Regions from separate parts of the Homo sapiens genome. Here region 1 is linked to region 2. The links come from fine-mapping of genetic effects on gene expression. A gene starts in region 2. The other region holds a variant in brackets. All regions are shown on one strand. Distances are from middle to middle. Region 1 overlaps TNFAIP8 (TNF alpha induced protein 8). Region 2 holds the start of TNFAIP8 (TNF alpha induced protein 8).

Evidence for each region. PIP is the estimated chance that this variant, and not a neighbour inherited with it, causes the effect.
Region 1: its variant is fine-mapped to the expression of TNFAIP8 in whole blood (TOPMed, PIP 0.97).

Annotation. Positions count from the first base shown.
Region 1 is chr5:119,390,825-119,396,055 of GRCh38, forward strand. TNFAIP8 (TNF alpha induced protein 8) reads left to right here. Exons shown (of 2, transcript NM_014350.4): 2 at 1,992-5,231. The coding sequence ends at 2,557. Among named protein-coding and RNA genes, the nearest start is that of TNFAIP8, 37 kb to the left of the region's middle. RefSeq lists a silencer at 242-399 and an enhancer at 4,213-4,262. The variant C/T (reference allele first, on the strand shown) is at 2,767.
Region 2 is chr5:119,352,916-119,358,146 of GRCh38, forward strand. It overlaps TNFAIP8 (TNF alpha induced protein 8), which reads left to right and starts at 3,104. Exons shown (of 2, transcript NM_014350.4): 1 at 3,104-3,206. The coding sequence starts at 3,176. It overlaps LOC102723444 (a long non-coding RNA gene), which reads right to left and starts at 2,858. Exons shown (of 5, transcript XR_007058912.1): 1 at 2,783-2,858; 2 at 1,340-1,451. RefSeq lists an enhancer at 2,061-2,200 and silencers at 2,851-3,010, 3,639-3,933, 3,731-3,790.

The DNA.
Region 1 (5,231 bases), 38 kb after region 2:
TTAATTTTTTCTGAGACAGGGTCTCACTTTGTTGCCCAGGCTGGAGTGCAGTAGTGCAATCACTGCTCACTGCAGCCTCAACTTCCCAGGCTCAGATTATTCTCCCACCTCCAACTCCCTAGTAACTGGGACTACAGGTGCATGCCACCACACCTGGCTAATTTTTTTTTTTTTTTTGTAGTTTTTTGTTGCAATGGGGTTTTGCTATGTTGCCCAGGCTGGTGTCAAACTCCTGGGCTCAAGTGATCCTCTCCCTACCTGGGCCTGCCAATGTGCTGGGATTTCAAGTGTGAGCCACCACACCCCGCCTTTCCCCAATTTTAAATCCAACATGGCAGTTCTGGATTAAGGGAGTCACTCTTCCTATATGTCTTCCCAGTCTGGATTTTGAAGCAGCTGCCTTTTTGCTTCCTAATGATGCTAGCCTATCCAAACTAGAAATAATCTTATATAATCATTGATGCCTTGACTCATTTGTATGTATCTGTATTTTTAAACTTTTTATCTTTCATTACCAAATGACTGCTTTCTGATACCCAGGCCTAGGCTTAAACACTGGCATATATGGAGAGAACAGTTGCCACTCGACTCAGAGATTGAGTAGACACCCAAAGAACTGCAGTTCTTAAGCCTTAGGAGAAGCGAGAGAAATGGGCCAGGTGCGGTGGCTCATGCCTGTAATCCCAGCACTTTGGGAGGCTGAGATGGGCAGATCACCTGAGGCCAGGAGTTCGAGACCAGCCTGGCCAACATGGTGAAACCCCGTCTCTACTGAAAATACACAATTAGCCGGGCATGGTGGAGGGTGCCTATAATCCCAGCTACTCTGGAGACTGAGTTGTGAGAATCACTTGAACCCGGGAGGTGGAGGTTGCAGTGAGCCAAGATCACGCCATTGCACTCCAGCCTGGGCAAAAAGAGTGAAACTCCGTCTCAAAAAAAAAAAAAAAAAAAGATTGCTACATGCATGGAGTGGGGAAAATTGTGGTAGAAGAAAAGTAAACTTGGTTTGGAGAATAAACATTTATTGAGCATTTTCACTTGACCAGCTCTAAGGTGGGAAGATTACATATAGTGTCTGTTTAATATTTAATATGTATAGCCATTATTATGTATATTGTAAACATCTGTCAGAAGTTATAATTCCAAAAGTAAACTCTAAGCAACAGCTTTTTCAAAGTATATTTTTCATGTAGCACATTTCATTAGCTCATGAAAAGGTTATTTCCCCAAAATGTGTAAAAATGTAAAGTGAACAATGGCCATTCATCAGAAATAGCAAGTGACAATGAGCTCTCCAAGGAGCACTTCTTTTCAACACTCGACTTCTGGAGGCTGAAATTCAAGGTACTTAGGACAGCCAAATTGGTAGGCACTGGCCAATGTCTTGGGAAATTTGACTTTTTGCAACCGGATTATAAAACAAGGCTTTCCTTTTGATTTGCTTAATCTGCCATTTTACTCAATATTATGGCTTTGCCATTTGTTCTTCTTCCATTTAAATGAATTTCTTTTAAATCGCTTGTGGTTGCTGTTGCCCAGATGACAGGTATAGAGTTGATTTTGTATTTTTTTTTTTGTTTTGAGACAGAGTCTCGCTGTGTCACCCAGGCTGGAGTGCAGTGGAGCAATCTCAGCTCACTGCAGCCTCCGCCTCCTGGGTTCAAGCGATTCTTCTGCCTCAGCCTCCTGAGTAGCTGGGATTATAGGTGCCCACCACCACGCCCATGTAGGCCGGGCTGGTCTCAAACTCCTGATCTCAAGTGGTCTGCCCACCTCAGTCTCCCAAAGTGTTGGGATTACAGGTGTGAGCCACTCCACCCAGCCAAAAATTCTTTTCTGAACAGAGACTAATGTCGGTAGATGTAAGACAAACCACAAATGGTGGGAAAATGAGGAAAAAAAGTGCTCCCAAATACCTGTTTTTAGTTCGCTTCACTTGCTGATATTTACTAATTGTTAATTCTTTTCCTCTCTTTTTTTTTTTTTAGTGGCCACAGATGTCTTTAATTCCAAAAACCTGGCCGTTCAGGCACAAAAGAAGATCTTGGGTAAAATGGTGTCCAAATCCATCGCCACCACCTTAATAGACGACACAAGTAGTGAGGTGCTGGATGAGCTCTACAGAGTGACCAGGGAGTACACCCAAAACAAGAAGGAGGCAGAGAAGATCATCAAGAACCTCATCAAGACAGTCATCAAGCTGGCCATTCTTTATAGGAATAATCAGTTTAATCAAGATGAGCTAGCATTGATGGAGAAATTTAAGAAGAAAGTTCATCAGCTTGCTATGACCGTGGTCAGTTTCCATCAGGTGGATTATACCTTTGACCGGAATGTGTTATCCAGGCTGTTAAATGAATGCAGAGAGATGCTGCACCAAATCATTCAGCGCCACCTCACTGCCAAGTCACATGGACGGGTTAATAATGTGTTTGATCATTTTTCAGATTGTGAATTTTTGGCTGCCTTGTATAATCCTTTTGGGAATTTTAAACCCCACTTACAAAAACTATGTGATGGTATCAACAAAATGTTGGATGAAGAGAACATATGAGCACATGAGTTAAGATTGTGACTGATCATGATTTATTTGAAGATGGAGCACTGCTGATTTATGAAGGAAAAAAGAAGAATTTTCTAAAGATTACACATATTTCAGAAAGACTTTACCCAATTCAGTTGTCAGACATAATGATTTATTTGAAGGCTTGTTTTATTTGAAGAAAAGCATATTGCCAAAAATTCTGGTTAAAAGCTTCCTAA[C/T]GGGTAACAGACCATGGGAGAGATATGTGGTTGGGTAATGCAAATGTAGTTATACAAAGAAAAATACAGATGTCTCCAGACCTGAGGACTTTTTAATAGGGCAGTTGTTGTGTTGGTGGCACATTGGATATTTCTAACATGTACAAAGCTATGTATTTTGATTTACTTTCATTTCTTGCTATGTATATGTACTTTTCTTAAAATGCCAAGAACTTTCTCTTGCTATCATTGCTCCTTTTGAAACAATTCAATTTTCATGTCTACAGCTGACTGTTTTGTTAAGATTGAGTCATCGACATTCAGGATTTAAGTCTGAGGTAGTCAACCCTCAGGAAAAAAAAAATGGCTTATCTGAAATCAGTACTGTGGAAATGAACTATATTAGCTATTATGAATAATGTCCAGTATAAGAATATGCTTCTGGAATTGAGTTCTCCTTTTAAGTACCAATGATACTTAAATTTCTCAGAAATGTAATGGTGTGTCATTGCCTTGAAATGCTTGCTTAGGGCTTCTTTTATGTTATCTTAAAAAGTGCTGGTGAATTTTCCATTTTTTACATCCATTTCACATGTAAGAGACAAAAAAGTCTAGATTGGTCTTGATATTGAGATAATAAAAAGTAAGTAGCATTAAGAAAGGTAACAATCTTCATTCTACAGATGAACTCATTGAAACAATTTAGGGGAATGAGGGGCAAAAGGGGAGAAATACTGCTAAAGAACATGAGCATAAAAATGCGTGCGTTTCAGTGTTTAAGAAGGCTTGATAAAGAATGTCACTTTTTTATTTAACTGATAAGATTTTTGTTATTTTTTACTTTGATAAGTAAACCAAAGAATATTTGTATTTCAAGCAGTTTGTGTGGTGTTTCTATATAATTTTCTGTGTATAAATAATAAAGTAGGCATTTGTTTATTTTGTAAAAAAGAAATGAAAATCTGCTGGCCAGCTATGTCCTCTAGGAAATGACAGACCCAACCACCAGCAATAAACATTTCCATTGTCACTGTGTCTATGATTTTTTTTTTTTTTTTTTTGAGTCTCGCTCTGTTGTTTAGGCTAGAATGCAGTGGCATGATTTTGGCTCACTGCAACCTCTGCCTCCCAGGTTCAAGTGATTCTCCTGCCTCTGCCTCCCAAGTAGCTGGGATTACAGGCATGCACCACCACACCCAGCTAATTTTTGTATTTTTAGTCGAGATGGGGTTTCACCATGTTGCCCAGGCTGGTCTTGAACTCCTGACTTCAAATGATCTGCCTGCCTCGGCCTCCGAAAGTGTTGGGATTACAGGTGTGAGCCACTGTGCCTATGATTTAGTGTACTCTCTTGCCTTAAATTTGCCTGCCTCCCAGAATATTGACATTAAAATAATAGTTTACCAGGAAAGGTTCCACAACTAAAAATTCCAGAAGTTGAGATCTGCTCTAACCCATTTCAGCCTAGAGAGGGTGGTCAGTTTCTCTGACACCCTCATTTGCTTGGCTAAGACAAGCAGCAAAGGTGTAGAGTTTCTTCCTGTTTGATATTAAATCCTGACACTAAGATTTGAACTGAAAGTATCATTCTCACTTCCTAGAGCCAGTAGGTGATCAGTATATGCTGTAACAATAACACAGTGACTACAGAAATGACCCTTCTAGCTTCATAACTTGCTAAGTGGCTTATAAATGGAATTCAGCAGCCTTCCTTGACCAGCTGTTTTCCTCACATGTGAAGGCTGAGAATGTGATGGGGGGTGTGAGCTACTGACTGGATGTGTTCTGTTCTCCAGATCTCAAACAGCAGAGGTATGGGAAACGAAAGCCCTGGGCAGTCCATGGATGCTTCTTGCTCATCTGTAGCTATAGACAGGACCAACCAGAGAGAGAAAACGTACGGAGGGAGAAATCTGGATCTCTCTGGACACACTGGATCATAGGGTTGTGCCAGCAGGCTAGCAATCAAATGTGCATGGGATTGGGGGAGCAATGCTTCATCTCCCACAGAGGGAAGGCAGTGAGGAGTAGACCGAAGGAGGGAATCCTGTTTGCTACCATTTCTCAGCATTTTCTGGAGGGGACCCATCTCCTTACCAGTGCTGTGCCTGAAAAGCATGTCTTGGATCAGGTCCAAAGTCGTGATTAGCAAGTTCATTTCTAATACAATAGGACTCCCCTTGAGCATTTAGGGTGGCAAGGAGCGTGGGAGCTGGGAAGAATCCCCACGTGCTTAGGGTAGATAAATCTGAGCCGAGTTAATACTAATTTGGGGATCCTATGAACCTTTTTATAAAATAGTATCTGTTCACGTTTTGAAAAAAATTGTGTTGTAATTGATTTTATTTTGTGCTGGTGGCTTCTCTGCAAAAATTATGAGTGGATATGATAAGTGGATGATAATACTAATGGACAACTAACGCAGAGTAGTTTGTATTATGTGTCGGGCACATTAACTCATTTAATTCTGCCACAATCTTCACCAT
Region 2 (5,231 bases):
CACACAAATATTTGATTATACCTCAATGAATGAATAAACCTTCAGAATCTTAGCTACCATTTTCATTCTTCCATCTTGACACAAAAGGTGGGAGTTCCATTATTAGACACTTGCAGGAGTTCAACATAGTATTTAAATTTAAGTACAGTTTGTTATTAAATGAGAAGTGTTGCTAACTTAGTTGCAATTTTGTATCAGGCGGGCGGTAATAGTTTGTTGGTATGACTTCCATACATGTTGCCATGTGAAGGATGTTTGGGGTGTTTCTTAAACATACAAGAATCAACAAGTCCCACCTACAGGAGATAACAAATCATTATGATGTACTGGACCATTATTCACTGGGGCTAAGAAGTAAATTATCCCCTTTTGAATAAAAGCACAGCAAAATCAAAATGACCTAGTACATATCTGAGAGCAGCAGAAGGCCAAGGGGAGCCCTAGAGAATCAGCTGCCCTTTGTCACCATGTTGCAGGGTAGGGGTATGGGGCAATGCAGCCTGCCCAGAGCAGATGGCTTTGAGGTTATACGGGAGACTGAGGAATGTACTTATTCACATAAAGCCTTTTAAAATAAGCTGAGCATTCATTGCTCTTGAGCTAAAACAGAGCATTCTTCCCCAAGGTGACTGCTTGCTTGCATTTAAATACAAAAGAAGTTTCTCTCCAGGCTTCCTGAGGCCGATGGTGAATGTTCAAAGATCAACGAAGCTAACATGAATCTAAAATGAATTATAAGGCTGACGGAGCGCTTGAACTATTCATTCAGCAGTTGTAAAACAAGTAGCACATTAAAGGACATGTATTTTAACATATCTTATGTGGTTTGTCCCCAGTTGGACTTGCAAAATGACATTTAATAAATATTTCTTGTAAGGGTACTTTCTAAAAGAAGAGAGTGAAAGTAATTCTGCTGTAGGCAGATTGGGCCTGAAATTTGGGTTGTCTGGATTTGCATAATCATCACCTTGAAAAGGTGTTGCTTTACCCCAATTATAGATCAGTGGAAGCTCTCTTGTGTAGCACACGGCCCTGGTGAGATCCCTTAAGATCTCTTGTGGACTATCTGTGGACATCTGGGTTGCAGTGAGGAAGGGCAAGGATAGATGGTATAGGGAGAGAGGGGCAGAATGTTGACTTGGGCAGGACAGGAAAAGCCACTTGTGACTGGTGAGGGAGCATTTCTTTGGGTTCAGAATCATCCTCATCTCAGTGTATCTCCCCATAAGTCTGAGATTACTGAGTGCAAGGTATACATATCAGCAGCTCCTGACTCAGGATGTGTGGCAGAGGGGACCATGAAGTTAACTGTGACTTTCGGAAGGGTGCAGTCTGTTACCCTTTCGGTGGCGAGGTCAGTTTCCGGGAGGCTCTGCAACACTGATATTTTCCAGATGTTTCTCCTCTTCTCCCTTCTCTGGCTGGCTATATCTTCCTCCCTTCATCCTGCTCTTTCAGTGAAATTGAGATAACATGTTAGAATCTTAGGCAGGTTAGAATCTCTCAGCAGTAGGATGTGATTTAATATCTAGACCTCTTACATTAATATTTATAATAGCCTTCACTGCTTGTGAATAGCATAAGCACTCTTTTCTGTTCAAAGTCAATACTGAAATAAAACCCAAGAGTATGTTTTATAAAAATTTACTTTTAATGGTGCAATGGTAATAATCTATGTAGTCCTTATGGTTTTCAAATCCCTTTGTGCTTATATTACCTTATTTAATACAGACATAAATCTGTGAAGTAAATAATACTATTTTTATCTTCATTTTACAAATGAGGAACTGGAGGCTCAGAGAGGTTAATTTGCATAAGGTCATACAAATGATAGATGGCAGAACTGGATTTAAGTTCAGACTCCTTAAATCCATGTCTTTTGTACGTTCTTTTCACTAAATTTGCCATAGTGTTTCTATTGGTTTTTGCCTATATAAAATCGGAAACGAAGAAAAAGAAACGAACTGGAAAATAAATTTGTCAAAAGAGTATATTTTTTTCTCATAATTTCCAAGCGGATCTTTCAGATATGTTATTTGAGGACTTTTTGCCTCAGACTGGCGATAAAACAAGTGTTCTACAAAATACCTCCGTAAGACAGGCCTATCAGTGGCAGCTCTTGTCCCCGCTTTGCAGAAGGGAAAACCAAGGCTCCACAGAGCTAAGGGGACTTCCTCTCAGCCAATTTGTAGGGGCCTGTGGGCCAGACCCGGGGGCAGAATTGAGATCTGTTGTGAAGGCTGTCCGGCTTCTTTATTCTATCAGCATTTCAAATCCTGAAAACCTCCCCTTTGGCATTTTGAAGGAATTCATCCCCAGTTTTTGCTGGTAGCCGGGAGGGAACCGTGCTCTCCCCCTGAGGAAGGCCCTTTGGAGTAACTGCAGCAATGAGTGCCCGGGCTGTGCTTGGAGTACCAGTGCTCGCCCGGGGCTATACTGAATGAGTAAGCAGCCCCGTCTGCTTTTGCTGTGCAAAGGTAAGGGTGGAGGCCGCTCCACTTTCTTCAAAAGGCCCCGCTCTGGGACTTGTGAAATTGTGCTCTCTTAAGCTGGTCCTTGCAACCCCATGGACGATATCCATGCGACTTTCCTACAAAAATAACATACCAAAGCCGCTTTAAAATCCGTAATTTTTGGGTTGCAAGACTCCAAGACAAAGTCAAATGGGCATCAAAAAATGTAATCCAAAAATACAGAGGCATTGGTTCTACCCTATATGCATTTGCTATTTATGTAAAACTACAGTGTGCTCTGAGATGAGACTTTTTTTTTCTTTTTATACCTTTTTTTCCGCCCGTCTGGTGCGTTTGCCGACGGTTCTTCTCGGCCCTGTGTCTCGGGAGAGTCGGCTGCCGTCTGGGCCTGTGCCCCACCTGCGTGCGCCCGGGCCGAGCCAGCCCCGCCAGGTCGCCTCCGCCCGGCTGCCGGCCCGAGCGCGCGGCTCCGGGGGCGGACTCCCGCCGCCCAGCTGACACGCGATTCGTCACTCTTGCAGAACTTTCCCCCTGAAAATCCCTGCACCAGAACCCGCTCTCCCGCCCCGGGGAGGTTTTGATTTTAGTGGCTTTCTTCCTTTTATTTTCCGTCGTGTGCGGATTTCGCTGCAGAGCGAACTTGCGGCTCGTCCGAGTACATGTGAGCGGTAATCGCCCCTGCAGCTGGTTATCCTGACATTATGCACTCCGAAGCAGAAGAATCCAAGGAAGGTAGGATTCTGGTTTCTCCTGGGGGCCGGCCAAGTTCTGCGGAGGAATTTGGAGGAAGGCAGTGGTAGAAGAGGATGGGAGTTTTAAAGTGAGCGGTGGGCACTTTGTCCGCTTGCCCTGCGCCTTCGAAGCCAAGTCGGAGCTGGATAAGCGGAGCCCGGGTCTCATCTTGGGCTCCCTTCTCCCCCCGCAGCCGTTCAGAGGGGAGGGGAGGAAAAGTCGGACCTAGTTCAGCCAGCCCACTAAGTCTGCTTTTTAGCTTTCTCTGGAAACGAAAGAGCCCCACTTGGACTCCAAGAATGCAAAATGTGCTTGGAAAAGGGCTGCCTGCCTGCATCAGAAAGACTGAAAGCGGGATCCCTGGAAGAGCCCTGAGTGGAGGGTCCCTTGAAAAGGGGTTTGAGAAATTAGAAACGCTATATGTTTCCGGCTAAAAGGGGAAGCTGAGTGAGGGGAAGCGAAAATCTGTATTTGAGAAATAGATTAATTTTTTTTCATTGCTGGGTTTTCAGCAGTGAGTTCATTTCGTTGGGGGTTTGAGGGGGCTGAAAGATATGAGGGGGTCCTTGTGCAGCTTGAAACTGAGAAGAGTTTGTCTGTTTCTAACTTCGCAAAAGCAAAGGGTTTCATTTACTCCTAACAGAGAACAGGTGACAGGGCTGGAAAAGCTCCAACCAAAACACAATTATACGCTGGTGTTAGTTTGGGGAGTTTATTTGTGTGTGAGTGTTTGTATGCTTTGTTCCTTGAAACTTTATGTATACAAAAGTTCTCTTGTAAGTGGGGGGTGGGAGTAAGGGTGGTTGGGGAAAATTAGAGAGTAAGAGAGGAGACTATTCAAGATTGTGAAATACTCTTTCTTTTCATGTAGTCTCTTGGAAAGCTGGTTAATTTCAAGTCAATCACAGCAGTTCTGGCAGAGGAGCAGCCCCATCATTTCTCCATTTGGTAGACACCAGTTAGGAAGAGCCCTTGAAACTTGTCCTCTTCTGCCTTTTACTGATTCCCCTCCCAGAGGAAAGCTTTGTGTTTCACCATGTAGTCTTTGTGGGCTCACGTTTACCTTATTATGCTGTGTGAGGGAAATAGTCAATAAAAAGGAGGTTTGTTTAATAGAAATACGGGGCTGGCATGAATGAAAAATGACAGCCAGGAGCATTGTTTTTGAGTTTGATGTGGAGTATGGGGGGAGTAATGCTTTCTTGCCGTGTCCTGTGTTCTGATGGAGCTGTGTGCTGATAGATGCTTTTCTTTTCTATGTCTTTATACCAGCAGTTTATTCAAAGTCAAAGGTAGTTGAAGGCAAATAGGAACCAGGCTGAGAGAACTCAAGGGTGAACTTCTGTGTGAATTACAAGTAGCACTTAAGCTGGCGTTTTCTCTCAGGTGTGTTTTCCCTGTCTTTTGAGAAAGAGAGAGTGGGAGAGAAAGTGGAAAAACAGTATCCCAAAGTGTGTATTATACATTCCCATAGCAACATCCACAGTCTTCCCTCCTCGAGGGCCCAGCTCTCTGGTTTTAAGTTTGGAAGCAGCCTGCAAACTGGCCTATGAAGAGGTTAATGGGGCCCCTTCTGCTTGTTCCTCACCTTCCCTCCACTTGTCATCATTTACATTCTGCAGATCGGCCACAAATGATATGGCGCTCTGCTTTTTAAAGAAAGCCCAGAATGTTTCTTTTAAAATAATCTGAGGTAGTAGAATTTTAAATTGATAGCAATTAGGGTGGGATACTGAATAACTCTTGAGGGAGATTGAACACTTTATTAATCAGATAGAATCATATAGCTTCTGCCAGGAAATGAAGGATAGGTGTCTGTGTGTTTTGGGTGTGTTTTCTCCAAGGCTGGTTCATTGGCTGTAATCTAGAACCTTCTGGTTAGCTACCACCACTCAGATGTCGATGAAGCGAGCTATGTTGTGTAAATAACTCAGTTATCTTCTCTATCGTTACTAGTCCTTTTCCTCTTATACGTAGCTTTTTTTTTTTTTTTCATCCTGGTGAACTTATGTATCCCATTTAGTG